Regions from separate parts of the Homo sapiens genome. Here all the other regions are linked to region 1. Evidence: fine-mapped expression QTL. A gene starts in region 1. Each other region holds a variant in brackets. All regions are shown on one strand. Distances are between the middles of the regions. Region 1 holds the start of LITAF (lipopolysaccharide induced TNF factor). Region 2 has its middle 20 kb from the start of LITAF. Region 3 has its middle 37 kb from the start of LITAF.

Region 1 (7,540 bases):
GTTGCTGTAAAAGTATTTTGCAGATGTGGTTTATTTTAGTTGACTTCAGGTAAAGGAGACGGTCTCCTTTACTTAATTCAATACTTTATCACAAAGTATTGAATATCTCATGTAATTTACTGAATACTATACTAAAAGTTAAAAACAGAATGGTTGTAAGGGTACTTGAAGTACGGTTTCTTTTGAATGTGTATCACCATCATAAAGTCAAAAAATCATAATTGAACCATCATTAAGTCTGGTACCATCTATATATGTATATATCTCCTCTCTCTTTCTTTGAAAGATTTCTGACTGATATACCACTTTAACTATATTAAATCTTCTGGTCCATGAATGTCTTTCCATTTATTTAGTTTTCTTTAATTTCTTTCAGCAATGTTTTGTAGTTTTCAGTGTATAGGTCTTGTTTGAACTTCCTTAGTTAAGCGTTTTCCTAAGTATTACATTCTCTCTCTCTCTTTTTTTTTTTTTTAGAGATGGGGTCTCGCTATGTTGCCCAGGCTAGATTCAAACTCTCATGCTCAAGGGGATCCTTCTGCCTCAGCCTCTTGAGTAGCTGGGACTACAGGTGTGTGCCACCATACCCAGCTTCTATCCTTTTGAGGCTATTGTAAATGGAGCCATTTTCTTAATTTCATTTTTGGATTGCTCATTGCTAGTATATAGAAATGCAACTGGCTGGGTGTGGTGCCTCACACCTGTAATCCCAGCACTTTGGGAGGCCCAGGCAGGTGGATGGCTTGAGCCCAGGAGTTTGAGACCAGTCTGGGCAACATAGCAAAGCCCTATCTCTACAAAAAATTACAAAAAAAAACTAGCTGGGCACAGTGGTACATGCCTGTAGTCCCAGCTACTGAGGAGGCTGAGGTGGGAGGATCGCCTGAGCTCAGGAGGTCAAGGCTGCAGTGAGCTGTGATCGAGCCACTGTACTGCAGCCTGGGTGACAGAGACCCTGTCTCGAAAAAAAAAAAAAAAAAAAAGCAACTGATTTTTGTATGTTAATCTTAAATCCCACAACTTTGCTGAACTGGTTTATTAGCTCTAATAGGTATTTAGTACATTCTTTAGGGTTCTTACATATAGGATCATATCACCTGTGAATAGAGATAGCTTCACTTTATCCTTTTCAATCTGGATGCTTTTATTTTTCTTGCCTAATGGCAATGGCCAGAACCTCCAGGACAATGTTGGACAGAGGTGGCCAGAGTGGGCACTTTGGCTTGTTCCTGTTCTTAGGGGTAAAACTTCCAGTCTTTTACCATTAAGTGTGTCATTAGCTCTGGGATTTTCATAGAAGCCCTAAGGTTGAGGAAGTTCCCTTCTATTTCTAGTTTATTATTATTTTTTTAATCATGAAAGCATTATTGGATTTCTTCAAATGCTTTTTCCGTCTATTGAGATGATCACGTGGCCCAGTTTACTTTTACCCCCTGGTTGGAAGCCTTGGGTTGGAAATTCAATCTCTGTGGTTTTTTGGGGATCAAAGAAAAGAGTTACAGTCTTATAGCTCTCCCCATAAATAATTGCAAGCTCACAGCCGTGGTAAGTGTTTAGGATGGATAAAAACACAAAGCTGGCTCCTGTTGCTGCTCAGCAGTTGGGGAAAGAAAAACAAATGAAGATGTGGTAGTATTCAGTAAAGGACAGAAGAAAATTCAGGCTTACTACTGCTTTTTACAGGAAGGAAGGGAGGAAGCGAGGAAGGGAGGAAAGGAGGAAGGGAGGAAGGAAGGAAGGAAGGAAGGAGAAAAGGTTGGGAGGGAGGGAGAGACAGAAAGGAAGGAAGGAAGAAAAGCATTCATACAGGGATGTTTCTTGAACGTTATCTCTGAGAGATTTTCCCTAGGTGTTATGTCTCCCTAGCAATGGTCTGTGATATTCTGTCTTAATGTCAGTATAATAATTGGTACCTTTGCAAGCCTTGGTTGCATCCTGAGAATGGAGGAATGGCAGAGGTTGGGTGTAATCCAATTTCCTGTTCTTCTCTTCTCCCTCCCTCCCTCCCTTCCTTCTTTCCTTCTCTTTCTTTTCCCTTTCTTTCTTTCTCTTTCTTTCTTCTTTTTCTTTCTTTTTTTTTTCTTTCTCTTTTCCCTCTTTCCCTCTTTCTTTCTTTGTTGCTTGCTTGCTACAGTGCAGTGGCTCGATTATAGCTCACTACAGCCTCAACCTCCGGAGGTCAAGGAATCCTCCCACCTCAGCCTCCTGAGTAGCTGGCACATGCCACCACTCCACCGCTTTATTATTATTCTTTTAATTAAAAAAATTTTTATAGAGATGGAGTCTCACTATGTTGTCCAGCCTGGCCTTGAACTCCTGGGCTCAAGAGATCCTCTGGCCATGGCCTCCCAAAGTCCTGAGACTATAGGCAAGAGCCACTGCACCCGCCCCCTTCATATTTTAAAAGCAGTAAAATGTTGCCCACACTAATAACATCTACATGGGAACCTCCTATGCTTGGGAGAACTTTGAAATCCCTTCCAACTTGGTAACTCGTCCACGGCTGAGGGTGGCCCGTCAGTGGACATGGCGCAAGGTGGCAAGAACTTGGGGCTGGGGACACTTTGCTGAGGGACCCGGGACAAGCCACACTCCCTATCTGGGCCTCACTATCTTTAGGACCTCGGGTAAAGGCATGGGATTTGGGCACCGGAGGGTTCTAAGATCCAGGTCTTTGCCAGCATGGGGCTCGGAAGCTCCCTGTCCAAATGGCGTTTGTTTGTGGATGGCCACATCATGGTTCTGCCCATCTCCTGACTCTGTGTACTCTGAAAGCCAGGCATGCTTCTTAATTCCCTCTAATGATTTCCCAGAGAGCCTGCTGGATCCAGGCTGCTGCTGTTATCACTGCAGCCGGCCGATGGGGCTCCAAGCAGACGGGCAGATGGCACCCATTTAGGGGCGGATGTGAAATGGGGCTACTGATTTCCAGAGCTTGCTTTCAGTGATGGCTGAGAAAGGCCTACCTGGCGGCACGGACCACCCTGGGGGCACAAAGCGGACAGGCAGCTGATAAGCCTTACCTAATACCTATCCTGTGCTAAAAACTTTACCATCTTCCCAGTTCACTCCCAGTCGGTCTTAGGAGACAGGACCGCTATTGTGCCCATTTTGCAGACAGGAAGCCGAGCTCAGAGAGGATGGGTAACATGCCCGAAGGCACAGAGAGTGTCTTGGTCTGTCCGGACGCGTCTGTAGAGTTACAGGAAGAGAAGGGCCGCCCTCCAGAGGGCCGGGAGCGCCCCAGCGCGGGTCCGGGGTCGAGGTTGGTGGTCCCGCCGCCTGGAAGTGGTGGAGCGGCGCGGGGAGGGGGGAAAGTGGGGAGAGCCGCGAGCGGCAAATCAGGAGGGAGGGCCAGGCTGTCGGGGGCGGACGGGTGGGGCTGGCACCGAGAGGCAGGGGCAGGATAGGAGAGTGGGGGAGACACCAGGTCCGCGCCAGGCGTCTCGGGGGTAAGCCTGGGAAGCTCTGGGGTGGCGAGCGAGCCGGGTGTGGGATGGAGCCTGGGGGCGATCAGAGTGAGGCGGGGAACCGGCGGTGGTCTCGCCTGGGGCCCAGGTGCGGGCCGCGGGGGCGGGAGAAGCCGGAAGCCCAAGCCGGCCGCGCTCCGCCCCGGCGGGTCCAGCCCCCGCCCCCGTCCCCGCCGCCCGGCCCTTTTCTCGGGGCGCCCGAGAGGCCAGCTCAGACCTCCCGGCTCGACAGGCGGCGCGGGCGGCGGTGAGTGCGGCGCGGGGACGCCGGGGCGCGGGGACCAGCGGGAGACAGCGGGGGGCCGGTGGCGCCAGCACCTGCTGGGGGCCCCGGGCACTGAGCCCTTGGCTGGGGCCTCCTGGGATGCCAGGGGGCGCGGGTCGGGTCGCGGGCATCGAGGCGCGGCGGAGGGCGTGGGGGCCCGGCCGGGGCGGGGTCCGGCCTCCCAGCGCTGGTCCCGGCCGCGTCTCCGGTTGGGTTCAGCTCCTGCGTCCCAGAGTGGCCCGATCGCGCGTGGCGGGGTCGTCCGGCCCCCACCCGAACGAGCGCCCTTCGCGGCCCGCCGCGTCCCCCTCCCCGGAGAGGACGGCCCCTGGGCTTTTTAGAAAAAGGCGCGATTCTCTCTAGTGACTCAGGTTGAGATTTCCAGAAATATCCCCCGGGGGTTCAGAAACAAAACCAAAACAAACAAAAAAACCCCAACGAATTCCCAAATGCTATTTGCCAAACATTTGACTTCTAGGGGCGCGGGTACCCGCGTTTCTCTCCCTGCCCCCGCGACTTCGCGCAAGATCCGGGAAGGACACCCGAGGCCCCTGGGAGACCCTGGGGAGGTGAAAATCAGAGAGCGAAGCGGGCCGTGGCCCCTAGGCCTGACCCCTCCCCGCGGGGTAAGGCGGGCACCCCGCGAGCGCAGGGGTCCTCTTACTGCTGATGGCACCCAGCTCTGGGCCCAGACGCCGCTCACCGTCCACCGCCGGTGCTGGGTAGGTGCTGGTGGGACCAGCTGGTGACTGGTGGCAGAAGTGGATCTCGCCCCTCCCTGCCAAGCTAGGCAAATACCCTCCCCGCTCTGGTTTGCAGGTCACTGTGGATAGGTGGTCAGTTGGTGGTGTGCCCGAAGCTCTTCGGGGTCAGGGAGAGGAGGTGATAGGGGAAAGGTGTATGTTCTGGAAGGGCCAGTCATGCTTCAGGGACCAGGCTAGTTGGACCTTCACTGGTTTTCTACTTCCCGACAGTGGAGCTGATGTCACTGGCTGTTGGACTGAGCAGTGGTCACTGGGAAATCTACAGTTTGTGGAAGCCACGGGGTCTTCCAAGCTCCTACCAGTCTTCCCAAAGAGGATGCCTCCCTCCCCTTGGCCTGGTGCACTGGTGCTGGTTCAAAGACTGTCTGAAGCCCAGCTTGGGGTCCTCTTTAGGAAAGCCATGATTTGCCTTAATGTGTGCTTGGCTGCTTCATCTGCCCTCTCACCCCCTGCCTTCTCAGAGTGACTCTTTTTAGGACTTCCTATTTAGGACTAACCCAGATGCCTACAGAGAGAAGTGCAGGCTGGTATCTGGAATTCCACCAGTGTTTTGGTTTTATCAGTTGGAGCAGGATCTAGATGGCGTGTGACTTGCTTTACCTGGCATAGAGTAACACCCATATTGCACTTGGCTTTCTTCTCCACCAGCCCTTGCTCTGGGAACTAAATGTGCACCAAACTCTCTAAGAAACATTTAATTGTAATCTACCATGAGGGAGGCCCATCTCCCTCTTTCCTGTTACTTTAAGGCATGAATAATTGATGCATTTATTCACATTTGAGAAAGTATCTTGTAATGTTTTCACAGATTAAGTGACTGGGTGATTGATCTAAGACGTAGGATCAATTTCTTTCTTTTTTTTTTTTTTTTTTGAGACAGAGTCTCACTGTCGCCTAGGCTGGAGTGCAGTGGTGCGATCTCGGCTCACTGCAACCTCTAACCCTCCCCACCCCACCTCAACCCCCTGCCTGAGTTCAAGCAATTCTAGTGTCTCAACCTCCCAAGTAGCGGGGATTACAGTTGGGTGCCACCATGCTTAGGTAATTTTTGCATTTTTAGTAGAGACAGAGTTTTGCCATGTTGGCCAGGCTGTTTTCGAACTTCTGACCTCTAGTGATCCACCTGCCTTGGCCTCCCAAAATGCTGGGATTACAGGTGTGAACTACCTCACCCGGCCCATTTCTTAAGTCTCTAAAATAGTAGATTGAAGTGTAATTCACTGTCTTTGGGGAATACATTTCCCTTTGTTACTTCCGTTCCTTTTATGGGCGGGCTGTTGAGAAATAAAGCGCTACCCTTGCCGTGTAAAGGATGCAGAAGAATGGCTCCTGGTCCTGAGGGGTTTACGCAATGGGTAGAAAGTAGAAACACACACCGGCGAAAAAGCTGGTGCTTGCTAATGCCCTTGTAACTCCAGAAAGGGCTTGAGAACAGTGGAAAGGAGGCAGCTAAGTTAGAGAAAGTTTCATGGAAAAACTGAGGCCTGAGCACATGTGGCAGAAGGAACATGAGGACATAGTTCAGACAAACAGGAGGGTCTCAGTAGAGCTGTGGAAGAGGTACAGACAAGCCCAGGTGGTTGAAGACAGTAAATGGAAAATCCACTGAGAGGAAGGAGCTGGAAGGCGTTTCCAGCCCAAGTTAATTTTCAAGAAAATAAACAGTGCATATTTTGCTGACATTACCCATCCTCACTGCTCAGAGGTGTATAATAGCACTTTGAGAATGGGCTGGTGCCGTTTTGTGACTTAAACTTCTCCCACTGAATAGGAATTTCCCCAGAGCTACAGTGAGGGTGGAAAAAAGAGGATCTGCAAGAGGAAGTCCTGTATTCTTGGCACTGTGACTTGTCCTCTATTTGTTTTCGCTTTTACAGCAGTGAAAATAGCCCCGTGGGTGAGGCGGTCTATCAGGTAAATAGACTTCCTTAGTTCTGTGTTTCTTTAGCACACATATTTTTGACGTCTCCCGGGTCTGTTTGGCCACCCATGGTCTGTTCTGAATTTGATTGATGTTTACTTGCCTAAGAATTGTTATTTGAGGTCAAGTGGCATTTTCCAGGGTCCTCATAATTTCATCTTGTTGTTTGAGCCTGTATTGATTGACACTCTGGACACAGGTGACAACAGCTTTGTAGCTAATGAAGTTGTCCCTTGGCTGCAGGTTATTTCAGTAGAAGAATTGTGTAATTTCATAGAGCTTAAGGCATGGACACAAGAAAGGAACCATTCTGGAGGGTGTCTATGTGATGGTAATTCTCTGCTCACCTCGCAGTAGGTAGGAGTTTATATACCAGGATCCAAAGCTGGAGGCTTCAGAGAAAATAATGTTGGAGAATTTAAGCTATTTAGCTCATGGAGCCTTAGATTTAATTGACAGTGTGCCTCAGGTAAGTTTAAGAGCTTAATGATGTCTTGCCTTAAACTTGAATCCATGAGGTTATTCCTAGATGATGCACTGATAGTTTGAAATTTTTTATTAAAAAATATTAAAGTGTGGAAGATAAAGAAGAAAGGCATAATCTTATAGAACGAAACAACTACCACTGGCTGTCCTTATCGGGCGGCTTCTGTCTTTTGTCTTTGTGCCTGTTTTCTATGAAATTGTCATCAGCGTTCATACAATTTTGTATCCTAATGCAGTCTCAGTCTTATTAATGATCTCCTTGCACTGTTTGATGAAAAACTGTGATTCACGTGGAAACTAGGGATGTGGTTTCACCAGGAGTCCAGAGGAAAACTGCCCACTCTGATTGTGGGGGAGCAGCCCAACTCCCCGATGGAAGCATTTTCCATTCCACAAATCACTGTGATTTGTCATTACGCCATGCTTGAACCTGGCTTTAAGATTGTGGTAACTTTATCTTTGACTTGTGGGACATACCGCCCTGCAGAAACAGCCTGAACTCAGAAGATGGAATTGGCACACATTTCTCTGAAATATTTCACTCTGAGCTTCTGTACTTTTACTGAGGTCTACTGAAACTGGAATTTGTTTGGGATCAAATAACCAAAGGCCAATTTCTCGCTTCCTTTCCCAA
Region 2 (7,540 bases), 20 kb before region 1:
CTTCCATGTACAAATTGGCCACTGATTCACATTTCCCCAGCCCCACCCAAGAGTGAAGGCTTGCTCCCATGAGCCAGCTGGTCCCCCTTCTGGTACATTACAGGTTGCCTTGAATGGTTGTCTGAGTTGTACAAAGCATGACTCCATACTTGAGAAGAGTGCCCCCTGCATTTGTGCAGTGCGCAACCTGCACAACCCAACACAGCAACCCTGTTTCCACTTCTAGATTATGACCACTGGGCGATGGTTTTTTTCCTCTTATTTACTGCTCAAGTTGGGCTCCATCCCATTGTTCCCTTGCTCGGGGGAAAACCTGAGCACTCTGGGAAGGCACTGTGGCAATGTCTGAAGACAACTGAGCTGCCAAGCCATGTGCACAGAGCTTTTGATTCTCAAGCCATCCTGATATCTGCTGGAGGGACTCTCCACTCCCTTCCCACTGCCCAGCGTGCAGGCTGGGGCTTGAAGGACCAGAATAAAGATTTCCTGCCTGCCCGACCGCCACGTCCTTTCCCGATCCTCACCCCCACCAACCCTCCAACCTAGGCATAATTTTAGAAACTTAATAGACCCCTTGCCGGACATTCTTGGCCTGGAGCCTGCGGGGGCAGGTCCTGAAAGAAGACAGACATTTCTTTCTTAGGGATTGCCGATAGAGATCCCCTGTTTTCCCCTGGGACAGGTTTCTGAGGGGCCATTGTGTGCGGAGGAGCTGCTCACACACTTGCTTCTTTATGGGGTCCCCCCACCACCCAGTCCTCCTGGGCTGGATTATTTTGCAGGGTGAGTCCCAGCTTCTCTGTGCTTCCCTGAGGCCCCCCAAAGCCATCAGGAGCAGTGGGGACTAGGGTGGGGAGGATTGAAGGCTGCAGAGATTGGTGGCCATAGGGAATCCTTTGCAAATCATTGGGGTCATTTGGTGCCTTGAAACTGTAAATGACAGGCGGGGACCTCTGGGCCTGGAGAGAGAAGGTGGGGTGTGATTTCAGCATCCAGGCCTTGGACGACAGTGAAAATTTGTTTCCATCACTGGCCAGGAAAGCCTGGTCTTTTCCGTTTGGATTTCAAGGAATTGCCCCATTCCTGCAGCAGACATTCTGGAGGCTTCTGGAGTGTGAGGGAGAAGTGGGCAGGAAGGAGGCATGCCAGGGACAAATGTTTACGGTCCCTTGAACAGCAGGCATCTCTCAACCGTAGCAGATGGGGGCCTCTGAGGCTCTGGGAGGTGAAGTAACTTGCTCACGGTCACGCAGCCGGGAAGTGGCACAGCCAGTCCTGCAGCCTGAATCCTTTGCTCCCTTTATCCCTTTTTCTTTTTTCCAAGAGTGTTTTGGATACGTAATTTACATACCGGACAATTCACCCATTTAAAGCATACCATTCAGGCCGGGCACGGTGGCTCACGCCTGTAATTCCAGCGCTTTGGGAGGCCGAGACGGGTGGATCACTTGAGGTCAGGAGTTCAAGACCAGCCTGGCCAACATGGTGAAACCTCATCTCTACTAAAAATACAAAAAAATTAGCTGAGTGTGGTGGCAGGCGCCTGTAACCCCAGCTACTCAGGAGGCTGAGGCGGGAGAATCGCTTGAACTCAGGAGGTGGAGGTTGCAGTGAGCTGAGATCTCGCCACTGCACTCCAGCCTGGGCGACAGAGTGAGTGAGACTCCGTATTAAAAAAAAAAAAAAAAGTCTACTATTCAAAGGCTTTTAGTTTATAGAATTGTGCAACTGTCACCACTGTCAGTTTCAGAACATTTTTCTACAGCTTCAAAAGAAACCTCATCCCCTTTAGCCATCGCTGTCTAATTTCCTTGTTCCCCCAGCCCTAAAACCATGAATCCGCTTTCTGTCTCTGTGAATTTGCCTGTTCTGGACATTTCACATCAATGGAACTGTATACTCGGTGCGTTTTTTTTTGTTTGTTTGTTTTGTTTTTTTTGTGTGTGTGTGAGACAGAGTCTCACTCTGTCACCCAGGCTGGAGTGCAGCTCACTACAACCTCTGCCTCCTGAGTTCAAGAGATTCTCATGCCTCGGCCTCCCGAGTAGCTGAGACTAGAGACATGCGGCACCATGCCCAGCTAATTTTTGTATTTTTAGTAGAGACAGGGTTTCACCATGTTGGCCAGGCTGGTCTCGAACTCCTGATCTCAGATGATCCACCTGCCTCGGCCTCCCAAAGTGCTGGGATTATAGGCATGAGCCACTGCGCCTGGCCCCCTGTGGCATTTCACACCTGACTTCTCTCACTCAGTGTACTGTTTCCAAGGTTCATCCACGATGCAGCCCGTATCAGTGCTTTATTCTTTTCCATGGCTGAATAATGCTCCGTTGTATGGATAGACCGGATTTTGTTCATCCACTTGTCTGTCGACGGACATTTGGGGTGTTTCCACCATTTGTGTACAGTTTCCTATGGATTTTTAGGTTTTCAATTCTTGTGGGAGTTCCCAACTCTTAAGCAAGCTGCTCAAATTCCTGCCTACGGGCTTTTGCTCATGCTGGGATTTCCCTACCTGGGAACTCCCCTCCCCTTTCCCCACACCCGGTAGAATCCAACTTGTTCCCCATGATCCAGCTACGTCCCTTTCCTCACTGCTCCCCGTTCTTCTCACCATAACGAGGGACAGGCAGTCTTTCTGCACTCTATCCTTTATCCTGGGCTGTGCTTGCGGTGTGATCTTGGGCCACTCGCTCAGCTTCTCTGAACCCCAGTGGGGTTTATCTGTGACGCAAGGATCTAATTCTGATCCCATGGGGGTGCTAGGAGGATCGAGATGGCAAGAGCTCTGTGTCCTGGAAGCCTGGAAAGGGATGATGTACTGGGGCAGGCATTAGTTTATTTCTTCAGCCAGCTGTTTCTGCTAAGTGCCAGCTTCATGCCTGAGGGGGTTTACTGTTGTAAAACCATAATGATCCTGCCTTCAGGGAGCTGGGACAGGGGTTCTTAACTGGGAGGGAATTTGGTCCTAGGAGACAAATCTGGAGATGTCATCTGGAGACATCTTTGGATGCCATGATGTGGGGAGGAGTGCTACTGGTTTCTAGAAAGAGGTCAGGGATGTTGCCAAACCTTCCATGATGCACAGGCAAGCGCCCATAACAATGAATGACCTGGCCCCAAATACTAATAGTGCCAAGGTTGATGAACCCTGGTCTGGTGATGTTATGGTTGTTCATTCGTTTTTCATGTGTGCCTGTATTTATTAAATTTTTTTTTGCATTCACAACCCTTGCCTTTTTCCAAGATGGATTCGAGGTAACTTACAGAGATACCAACAAAACAACAGGATTTTTTTAATGAGGACGTTGAGGTAGAAAACAATAAGAAGGAAGGAACTTTTTTTTTTTTTCCCGAATGATACCCATATTAAAGCACACTACTTTCAGAAGTGGGACATACATTTGGCTCTGAGCTTCCTAGTGGCCAGAGCAAAAAGAGAACCAATTAATTTCAAGATTCTCACTGACCCAAAATTGAAAATAAATTAAGAGCTTAAGGGAAGTCCAGCCTTCTTGGGTGTGAAGGGCTTTTCTCCTACAGGCCCTTATACAGGGGCCAAGGCAATGTGCTGGAGGAGACAGCACTGTTCTCGACACAGCTCTGCAGGGAACATGATAGTGAG[T/A]ATCACATTGCATCCTCTGATGCAGGCCTGTGATGCAAGGCTGAGGCCAGCTTGGCAAGGCAGCTATACATGGGGCACCTGCCCTGAGAGTGGGGGTTTTACTTTCCCAACTTTGGAACAGAAAACGTGGTCCACACTGTAGGCAGTTCAGAATAGCAGTGGAAGCTGGGGCTCTGGAGCCAAACTGCCTGGGGTGAGGATGTGGATTTACTCCCAAATGGTGGTGTGACCTTGGGCCATTCCTGAAAGCTCTCTGAACTCAGTTTCCTCATCCATAATATAGGACAGGAATAGCACTTCGCTCGTAAGGTTGTTGGAAGGATACAGTGAAGTAGGCCGGGCGCAGTGGCTCACGCTTGTAATCCCAGCACTCTGACCAGCTGAGGCAGGTGGATCACCTGAGGTCAGGAGTTCGAAACCACTCTGGTCAACATGGCAAAACCCCACCTCTACTAAAAATACACAAAAAAATTAGCTGGGCATGGTGGTGGGGGCCTGTAGTCCCAGCTACTCGGGAGGCTGAGGCAGGAAATTCGATTGAACCCGGGAGGCAGAGGTTGCAGTGAGCCGAGATCGTGCCACTGCACTCCAGCCTGGGCATGTTGTAGTTTTGTGGCTGCAGGCATACCTCAGAGATACTATGGTTTTGGTTCCAGACCACCACAATAAAGCAAAAATTGCAAGAAAGCAAGTCACAGAAATGTTTTGGTTTTCCAGTGCATATAAAATTAATATCAGCAGTAAGCCTGTTTCACTTTCTTATCATTCATGTGCGTACTTTTAATTTCCTTCAGGAACTTTTCTGGCCAGGCGAGGTGGCTCACATCTATAATCCCAGCACTTTGGGAGGCCGAGGCAGGTGGATCAGTTGCGATCAGGAGTTCGAGACCAGCCTGGGCAACATGGCAAAACCTCGTCTCTACAAAAAATACAAAAATTAACTGGGCATGGTGGTGCGTGCCTGTAGTCCCAGCTACTCGGGAGGCTGAGGTGGGCAGATGGCTTGAATCTGGGAGGTGGAGGTTGAAGTGAGCCGAGATCATGCCACTGCACTCCAGCCTGGGTGATACAGCCAGACCTTATCTCAAAAAATTAAAAAATAAAAATTAAAAAAAATCCAGGGGCAGAGGGAACCATGTGGGACGGATAGCATCAGACAGACCAGATGGTGAGTAGGGTGTAGAGGTCAGTGCCATCAGCCTATCATGCCTGTTCTGTGTCTGATAGCAATAGCCCACAATAAGTTTAACGAAAAAGGATCCCTCAACTAAATCAATGATCACATATCCTGTGTGTGCAACACTTTGAAGGAAGAATGGGGGCTCCCAGAAGATCAGGCTGTGCGCAGGCCGTGGGAGAGGTTGGTCTTGATCCTAAAGAGGCAGCTATTGATAAGTTTCCGTGGGAACAGTGGAACCTACCTCCTGGTGCGGTTGTGAGAGTGACATGTGTAGTGTGGGAAGCTCTCGGGGCTCTCACGGTAACTCTCTTGCTTCTCTTTCTCTTAGAGACAGGGTCTCACTCTGTTGCCCAGGCTAGAGTGCAGTGGTGCAATCATAGCTCACTGCAGCTTCGAACTCCTGGCCTCCAGCGATCCTCCTGCCTTGGCCTCCGTGCCCGGCTGGCTGCTGCTTTACTTTTTCTTGCTTCCTCCCCTCTTCTCACTCCTTGTCCCATCTCAATTCTTTTTCTTTTCATTTCTCTTTTTCCCTCCCTTCTTTCTCCTTTTCTTCCCTTCCTTCCTTGCGGCCCCTGCCTAGGAGTCTCCCTCCTGTGCGGCTCTGGGCTGTAAAGAGAGACACGGGGCTGGGAAGGGGTCCCCCACACTGTGAAGGGAGCCCAGGGCAGTGCTAGCTGTGCTCCTTTCCCTCTTCCCAGTCCTCCGGGAGGTGCACAGGATCCCGCCTGGGAGGAATCCTGGGCCTCGTGGGGGTTTCTGAAGACATAGCCAGACCTGCGTGGCATCCCCCCATTGAATACTAGGGGCCACATTCCCCACGGGGACACAGGCACTTGTCACAGCCCCACTGGTGAAGTCCACGGTGCGTAATTCAGCTCATCCTCCATCCAGAGCTGGCTGGGGGGATGCTGAGAGCTTGGGCTCCCTGTTTGCACAGTGGAGAGAGAGAGAGAGAGAGGAAAGGACACATTCCTGTTCCTGGGAGCCCTGAGGGCCTGCACACGGGTGAGGGACCCATTCAAGTGCCCCACGTCCAGCAGTGGTCCTGGCCGATTCCTGGAGTAGGCAAGGAAGTTCCGTTCTTTCCCGCATTGCTCCAACTTCCCGACACAGGAGAACAGATGTTTCACATCCAAAGATGACCGAGATGGCAGTGGCTTCATTACACTGAGCAGGCAGTTCCTTGAACAGGCGTGGGTGGGTCCCAGCCTCTTCAGGAAGCAGTTTGACGCAGCGTTTCAGGGGCCTGGAAATGTCTATACTTTTCTCGTCAGTAATCACACTTCTGGGAATTTGCCCAAAGGAAATAACCCTAAAAAAAAAAAAAGAAAAGAAAAGCCATGTGCCCAGCAATATCTATTGCAGTGACATTTTATAATAGGGAACCATCCAGGTGACACAACTGTGGCCACCACCTAGTAGATTCTTTTTTTTTTTTTTTTTTTTTTAAGAGAGACAGAGTCTTGCTGTGTTGCCCAGGCTGGTCTCGAACTCCTGGGCTCAAGCAATCCTCCTGCCTTGGCCTCCCAAAGTGCTGGGATTACAAGCGTGAGCCATCACACCTGGCCGAGAGATTCTTGATGATGGCATTTGTGCTCCTGGATCCAGCCATGCCTGAAGTCCTCACCATGGACTTTCCAACTATATGAGCAAATAAATTCCCTTTGCTATCTAAACAATATATTTATGATACAAAACTGTGCAATTAGTTGGGTCGTAATGAGGATTAAATGAACTAATGATATATGAAATACTTGCTTCACAGGGGCTCATGAGAGGTCAGCTCTCAGGAATTTCTTTCCCTTCAGTGAATGTAGTTCCAAGTTAAAATCCACCAAGCATATTCCACATTTTAGAGCAGGCATGAATGGGTTTGGTTGATTTAGAACAATAAGCACACAGAACTGAAATTTCACATCACCACCTACCCCTCCAGTGTCTCACTATGTTGCCTAAGCTGGTCTCAAACTCCTGGGCTCAAGCAATCCTCCTGCCTCAGCCTCCCAAAGTGCTGGAGTTACAGGCATGAGTCACCACGCCCAGCCTCTAGTGGAGTCTCGCTCTGTTGCCCAGGCTGGAGTGCAGTGGCGTGATCTTGGCTCACTGAAAGCTCCGCCTCCCAGGTTCATGCCATTCTCCTGCCTCAGCCTCCTGAGTAGCTGGGACTACAGGCGCCCGCCACCACGCCTGGGTAATTTTTTTTTGTATTTTTAGTAGAGATGGGGTTTCACTGTGTTAGCCAGGATGGTCTCGATCTCCCGACCTTGTGATCCGCCCGCCTCAGCCTCCCAAAGTGCTGGGATTACAGGCGTGAGCCCCTGCGCCCGGCCTCTAGTGGATTCTTAAATGTGCATTTATAAGAAGGAGTTCTGAGAGCTCTTTGTCAGCTAAGCTGGAAACACAATTGCATGCCTGCTGAGGTGGCCGGGTTGGGATGGGGGCTGCGGATTTTCCGAACCATTTCTGATACTGCCGCATTGCTCTGTCTGCTAGGAAACCTTGCCAGGCAGCTGTGTCCCCCAGGGCGTTTCCAGCCATTCCCAGGCTAAAACTGGAGCGCCTGTTCCATTTTGGAAAATGAAGACCGACATCTCAAGGCGTGTTTCCTTTTTGGATGTTCCCCTGGATTTCTGGAGGGGAAGAGAAGGGCGCGTGGAAGACAGCCAGGGAGGCCCTTGAAACCCCTCGGGAGGCAGAGCCCCTGGGGCAGGGATTTGGTCTTTTTCACCTCAAAA
Region 3 (7,540 bases), 37 kb before region 1:
ATTTTTATTTATTTTTTGATATTGAGTCTTGCTCTGTTACCCAGGCTGGAGCACAGTGGCACAATCTCGGCTCACTGCAACCTCTGCCTCCCGGATGCAAGCCATTCTCCTGCGTCAGCCTCCAGAGTAGCTGGGGCTACAGGCGTGCACCACCACACCTGGCTAATTTTTGTATTTTTAGTAGAGATGGGGTTTTGCCATGTCGGCCAGGCTGGTCTCGAACTGCTGACCTCAGGTGATCTGCCCACCTCGGCCTTCCAAAATGCTGGGATTACAGGCGTGAGCCGCCACTCCCAGGCCTTGTATTTTTTTAAGTCTAATACATTAGTCAGGATGAATAGCAGAATGCTGCAAAAACCAGAATCCCACTGGAACTGGTTTATGCCATTGCAGAATGTATTGTGTCACTGGGAAGTGGGGAGGGCAAGAGCTTCAGGCCTGGCTGGATCCAGAAGCTCAGACCATGCTGTCAGGGATCTGTCTCCAACTCCAAGCCTGGCTGTTCTCTGTGTTGGCTTCATTCTCCAGTGGGCTTGCTCTACCTGCTGGCAAAGATGGTGCTGGGCAGCTCCGGGTTTTCATCTCACCAGCCTTGTAAAGAATTCGTCTTATTCAAGGAGCTCCAGCAAGGGTCTTGGGGTTGATTGTCATTGGCTTGGCTTGGGTCACATGCCCATTACTGGAGCAATCACTGAGGCTCAGGAGATGCTGGGTAGCCACTGGCCAGGCTTGGTCATGTGCATGACACAGCCCCTGGGGCTAGGAAGGAGGGACGCGTCTGCAGCAAAGGTAAGAGAGGCCGTCCACACCCGGGTTCCTAGGGGGATGGGATCAGACTGGAAGAAGCTTGTTTAGCCAGGCATGGTGGTGCGTGCCTGTAGTCTCAGCCACTTGGGAGGCTGCGGTGGGAGGATCACCTGAGCCCGGGAGGTAGAGGCTGCAGTGAGCCAAGATCGTGCCACTGCACTCCATCCTGAGCGACAGAGACTCCATTTCAAAAAAAAACAAAAAAAAGAAGAAATAAATTTTCACCAGTAGCACATTAAATAAAAATATAGTGGACCTAGTAGAGCTTGAAATGTTTTAAAAGGCCGGGCAAGGTGGCTCACGCCTGTAATCCTAGCACTTTGGGAGGCCAAGGTGGGCGGATCACCTGAGGGTGGGAGTTCGAGACCAGCCTGGCCAACATGGTAAAACCCCGTCTCTACTAAAAAAAAATTACAGGCTGGGCGCGGTGGCTCACGCCTGTAATCCCAGCACTTTGGGAGGCCGAGGCCAGCAGATCATGAGGTCAGGAGTTGGAGACCAGCCTGGCCAATATGGTGAAATTGGTCTCTACAAATACAAAAATTAACCAGGCATGGTGATGCCTGCCTGTAGTCCCAGCTAGTCAGGAGGCTGAGGCAGAAGAATCCCTTGAACCCAGGAGGCAGAGGTTGCAGTGAGCTGAGATTGCACCACTGCACTCCAGCCTGGGCAACAGAGCAAGACTGTCTTAAAAAAAAATTACAAAAATTAGCAGAGCATGGTGGTATGAGCCTGTAGTCCCAGCTGCTTGGGAGGCTGAGGCAGGAGAATTGCCTGAACCTGGGAGGCAGAGGTTGCAGTGAGCTGAGATTGTACCACTGCACTCCAGCAAGACTCTGACTCACTGTATAAAAAGAAGTTTTTTTTTTTGTTCGTTTTGTTTTTTTAAAGTAAAGTAGTGGGATCTTTCTCACAAACATAGGGGAACTAATTCATACCATTTATTGGAACAAGTCCTAAATTCTGGAACTTTCATCAATCAGCCCAGTCTCTGGAACTCCTGAGAAATTTACTAAGCGCATGGGATCTGGAATTGACTCCCAGGTTCAAATCCTGGTTCTGCCACTGTTCAGCTGTGTGGCCTTAGGCAGGTCACCCAACCTCTCTGTGCTTCCATTTCCTCATGGGCACTGGGGTCATGAGGTTTTCTGCCTCGTAGGACCATTGTGAGGATCAGATGAGGCTCCAAGAGCTTAGGGGGACTTGTCTGTGTCTCAGGGCTGGAGTTAGAACTAGCCTGGCTGACTCCAAGTTCTGGGCTCTTTCTGTCTCCAGCGCGGGCACACAGCAGGGACTCACTGACTGTAAAATGAATGAATAAATGAAAGATTAAAAGGGAAGGTTGATCTCTTTCTGCTCTGATTTCTGTCACTGCATTCCTTCAGCACACAACCTAGGGGAACTCAGGGTTTCTTAAGAAGCCTGTCTTAGACTTGGTTCCCCCAGAGGCTGATGCTGAGACAGAAATTTGGGTGCAAGTAATTTATCTGGAGCCAGGCACAGTGGCTCACACCTGTAATCTCAGCACTTTGGGAGGCGGAGATGGGCAGATTGCTTGAGCCCAGGAGTTGGAGACCAGCCTAGGCAACATGGCGAAACCCTGTCTCCACTAAAAATGCGTAAATGAGCCTGGCATGGTGGTACGTGCCTGTAGTCCCAGCTACTCAGGAGGCTGATGTGGGAGGATTGCTTAAGCCTAGGAGGCAGAGGCTGCAGTGAGCCGAGATCGCACTACTGCATTCCAGCCTGGGTGACAGAGCGAGACCCTGTCTCAAAAAAAAAAAAAAAGGTTTTTGGGAGGTGATCTCGGGAGACACCACCCACCATCACACCGGACCACAGTGACCTTCAGAGAGTCACGGCCACTGCTTTGTCTCCACTCTCCAAATTTCACTCATGTTCCTCTTTTGGTCATCTCTAACCAGAACCACATGGGGAGGAAATTCTGGGAAATTGAGTTCTCAGCTTCAATGAGTTGGCACAGCACAGTTCACCCAGCAGTTTGTCTCACCTTCCTGGGTCCTCCAGTCCAGAGCTGGTTGGTTGGGGCACCTTGGGTCTCCTTCACGTGACCTCTCACCCTCCTGGGGGCTGTTTGCCTTCTTATGGGGTAGTCTTATCGGGCAGTCTCAGGCAGCACGCCAGGAGGGTCAGAGTGGAAACTAAGCCTCTTAAGTCTTAGCCTCAAAATTTGTAGAGTCACTTCTACCATATTCTATTGGTCAAAGCAAGTCTCGAGGCCACCCAGATTTGAGGGGTAAGGAAATAGACTCTACCTCTTGACAGGAAGAGTTGCAAAATACTGCGACCATGTTTTTCATTTTCAGTCGATCACACTTCCCTTCCTGAAGATGTTTAACTGCAGTCTGTTGGAAATTTATCATGATAAATCTGTAAACATAGGGTGATAGTGAATATAAATGGAGACCCTGTAGAGATGTGCAGTGCACAACCTGTGCAACTGTCACGGCAGCCTTGCTGTGCAAGATGTCATAGAACTCACCTATTCTTCTCACATGCCCCACTGTGGTAGGCATTTGTTATTTTTGAATGTCAGCATCTAGGGCTCCTTCTGAGGATAGTAACTACCTATTTCC[A/G]TTTCTATTCTAGTGAGGCTGACAGTCTCAGACTCCAGGGAGGGGCTTGTTATCATGAATTCTATTGCTGTAACCATAGAGATTGACCAGAGGATGGGCACGTGACCCACACCGGACCAGTGAGATTCAACCGTGGGAGTTTAGCTGGAACTATTGGAAAATATTCTCTTTCCACCAAAAATGTTTAGTTGGTTGGGGATAAGGCTGGAACTGCTGGGGGCCCTCTTTACCCCTCTGAGGGAAAGGCCTACCTGATAATGAATGATACAATCACAGAGGAGAGCAGAGGCAAGAGACGGAGAGAGAGAAATTATTTATTTATTTATTTATTTTTGGTAGAAATGGGGTCTTACTATGTTGCCCAGGCTGGTCTTGATCTCCTGAGCTTAAGTGATCCTCCTGCCTTGGCCTCCCAAAGTACTGGGATTACAAGTGTGAGCCATCACATCTGGCCAAGAGAGTGATTCTTCTTTTAAAAAAATTTTTTTTGAGATGGAGTTTTGCTCTTGTCACCCAGGCTGGAGTGCAATGGCACGATCTTGGCTCATTGCAACCTCTGCCTCCCGGGCTCAAGAGATTCTCCTGCCTCAGCCTCCCAAGTAGCTGGGATTACAGGCGCCTGCCACCATGCCCAGGTAATTTTTGTATTTTTAGTAGAGACGGGGTTTCACCGTGTTGGCCAGGCTGGTCTCGAACTCCTGACCTCAGGTAATCTGCCCACCTCGACCTTCCAAAGTCCTGGGATTACAGGGGTGAGCCACCATACTTGGCCAAGAGAGAGATCCTTTTTTTTTTTTGAGACAAAGTTTCGCTCTGTCACCCAGGCTAGAGTGCAAGGTTGTGATCTCAGCTCACCACAACCTCTGCCTCCTGGGTTCAAGCGATTCTCCTGCCTTAGCCTCCTGAGTAGCTGAGACTACAGTCATGCGCCACCTTGCCTGGCTAATTTTTGTATCTTTAGTAGAGATGGGGTTTCACCATGCTGGCCGGGCTGGTTTCGAACTCCTGACCTCGTAATCTGTCCGCCTCGGCCTCCCAAAGTGCTGGGGTTACAGGTGTGAGCCACCACGCCCAGCCTGAGAGATTCTTGATGATGGCATTTGTGCTCCTGGATTCAGCCATGCCTGAAGTCCTTACCACAGACTTTCCAACTATATGAGCAAATAAATTCCCTTTGCTATCTAAAAAATATATTCGGCCGGGCGCGGTGGCTCATGCCTGTAATCCCAGCACTTTGGGAGGCTGAGGCAGGTGGATCACAAGGTCAGGAGATCGAGACCATCCTGGCTAACACAGTGAAACCCGTCTCTACTAAAAATACAAAAATTAGCCGGGCGTGGTGGTGGGCGCCTGTAGTCCCAGCTACTCAGTTGACTGAGGCAAAAGAATGACATGAACCCAGGAGGCGGAGCTTGCAGTGAGCCGAGATCACGCCACTGCACCAGCCTGGGCGACAGAGCGAGACTCTGTTTCAAAAAAAAAATTATATATATATATATATATATATATTCATTATATGAAACTATACAACTAATTGGGTCATGATGACGATTAAATGAACTAATGATATACGAAATACCTGTTTCACAGAGGCCCATGAAAGGTCTGTTCTCAGAAATTTCTTTCCCTTCAGTGAATGTAGCTCCAACTTAACATCCACTAAGCATATTCCACAGTTTAGAGCAGGCATGGGTGGGTTTAGGTGGTTCAGAACAATAAACACACAGAACTGAAATTTCACATCACCACCTACCCCTCCAGTATCCTTCACGACACCTTGTATTCTTAATTTACATTCTGAAAAGACAGCAGAAAAGCAATGGCTTTAAATAACCCTGTTAAACGGTGCAAAAGCAATCTCGAGAGACACCGTTTTTGTTTTCTCTGCAAGAGGAAAGAAGGGGGTTGTGTAGGGAGGTGGAAATCTGCACAGACAGCCTCCTCCATCTGCACAGAATTAAAATGAAGTTCACAAGTGTGCGGTCTGCAAGTGGCTCTCCCGTGATTGCTGCCTCTTCCCGGGGGCTCTCCAGCCATCCGGGGTTTGTTTTTCCTGGGCCTGAGCTCAGATGTCAGGCAGGCAGAGGGGTCTTGGGATATCTCCCCACCCAGGGAGCAGGGGGAGGCCGCAGGCGGCTTGGGGTCTGTGTGTTTGGGAAAGCGTTCAGGCTGTTTACTCTGGGTCTCTTGACAGCCCGAGGGTGGCCGTGCCAGGCGGTCCAGATGCTTCCAGCTGGGGTCTCATGAGCAAGCCATGCCGCCTGGCTTATGGTGGCACCTCCTCTGAGCTGTCCCCACCAGGCTGCCAGGGCGGGTCCCCCAAACACACTCTCTAACCACATCCCCACTGCCTCCACCCTCATCAGCCACCGACAGCTCTGAACTGGGAAGGCCAAGGGCTGGAGCGGGCCTGCAGACGTGTTTTGTTTCATTTTGTTTTGCATTGTTTAATTTGAGCTGGCAATGAACCCTCAGAAGGTTTCACGAGAAACTTTGGATCTTGGTTTCTTTTGAAAAAAATGGGAAGGTCTTGCCTTCCCACCCAGAAGAAATGGGCTGCAGCAACGTAGGAGCTGGTTTCTTATCTTAGTTTGCATTGCCCCGGAGCTCTGAGAGCAGGATCTTAGGATCTGGGTGCCAGTGGTTTACTAGGGAGGGGATCTCAGGAAGCACAAGCAGTTGGGAAGAGAGTCGGGGCAGGGAAAGAATCAACACACACTACAAGGTGTCAGGGAGCCGGCCACTCTTGTGGGCACCTGGGGCTGCATCCTGCCGGGGAATTCAGGGGAGCTGTGTAGAACGTGGGTTGTGCTTCCTGAGGGGCAAGGGGGCTGGGATGTTCCCTTCTGACTCCTGTCTATCCTTGATGGAGGCCTGCTTCTGAGGGGGGTTAATACCAGTCTGTTCTGCACATAGGCCAAGAAGAAAACTTCAAGTAGAAAGTCATGGGTGGGCCAGGAGCGGTGGCTCATGCCTGTAATCCCAGCACTTTGGGAGGCTGAGGCAGAAGGATGGCTAGAACCCAGGAGTTAAAGACCAGCCTGGGCTACATAGCAAGACCCCATCTCTGCAAAACATATAAAAATTGGCTGGGGCTGGGTGCAGTGGCTCATGCCTATAATCCCAGCACTTTGGGAGGCCGAGGTGGGCAGATCACCTGAGGTCGGGAGTTCGAGACCAGCCTGACCAACATGGAGAAATCCTGTCCCTACTAAAAATACAAAATTAGTTGGGCGTGGTGGCACATGCCTATAATCCCAGCTACTCTGGAGGCTAAGGCAGGAGAATCACTTGAACCTGGGAGGCGGAGGTTGCGGTGAGCCGAGATCGCGCACTGCCATTGCACTCCAGGCTGGGCAACAAGAGCGAAACTCCATCTCAAAAAAAAAAAAAATTAACTGGGTGTGGTGGAGTGCGCCTGTAGTCCCAGCTACTCAGGAGACTGAGGTGGCAGGATCACCTGAGCCCAGAAAGTTGAGGCTGCAGTAAGCCATGATGGCACCACTGCACTCCAGCCTGGGCAACAGAGCGAGACCATCTCAAAATAGAAAGTCACAAATGGCGAGCCCAGTGTGCAGTGTTGACATGTCCTGGAGCAGCAGCTGCTGAGGGAGATGTGGGCAGGGCCATGACAGTGCCCGCTGCACCTGTTACATGGGGCCTTGCCCTTCAGTTTGTCACAGTCCCCACCACTCCCTATTGTCTGTCTCCCTGACCACAGGCTGAGAATAAGTTCCTAATATCATCATACTTGTGCTGCTGATTCTTTCACAGAATAGAAATGACCTATTTTTTCCATATCACCTTCAATAGTGGGAAAGTGGGCTGGCCACAGTGGCTCACGTCTGTAATCCCAGTGCTTTGGGAGGCTGTTTTAGGCATTCTTGCATTGCTGTAAAAACATACCTGTGACTGGGTAATTTATAAAGAAATGAGGTTTACTGGGCTCATGGTTCTGCAGGCTGTACAGGAAGTATGGTGCTGGCATCTGTTCAGCTTCTGGGGAGGCCTCAGGAAGCTTATAGTCATGGTGGAAGGCGAAGGGGGAACAGGCATGTCCCACGGCGAAAACAGGAGCAAGAGATAGTGTTGGGAGGAGGGCCACAGTCTTTTAAACAATCAGATCTCCCATGAAC

The links. PIP is the estimated chance that this variant, and not a neighbour inherited with it, causes the effect.
Region 2: its variant is fine-mapped to the expression of LITAF in skeletal muscle (GTEx, PIP above 0.99).
Region 3: its variant is fine-mapped to the expression of LITAF in T cells (TOPMed, PIP 0.93).

The regions. Positions count from the first base shown.
Region 1 is chr16:11,583,063-11,590,602 of GRCh38, reverse strand. LITAF (lipopolysaccharide induced TNF factor) reads left to right here and starts at 3,684. Exons shown (of 4, transcript NM_001136472.2): 1 at 3,684-3,717. RefSeq lists silencers at 3,331-3,810, 3,841-3,920 and an enhancer at 4,821-4,930.
Region 2 is chr16:11,603,358-11,610,897 of GRCh38, reverse strand. It overlaps a transcript of LITAF not described here. Among named protein-coding and RNA genes, the nearest start is that of LITAF, 20 kb to the right of the region's middle. RefSeq lists enhancers at 1,647-1,696, 5,124-5,623, 7,073-7,540. The variant T/A (reference allele first, on the strand shown) is at 3,626.
Region 3 is chr16:11,620,321-11,627,860 of GRCh38, reverse strand. It overlaps a transcript of LITAF not described here. Among named protein-coding and RNA genes, the nearest start is that of LITAF, 37 kb to the right of the region's middle. RefSeq lists enhancers at 243-777, 5,356-5,645, 5,094-5,862. The variant A/G (reference allele first, on the strand shown) is at 3,405.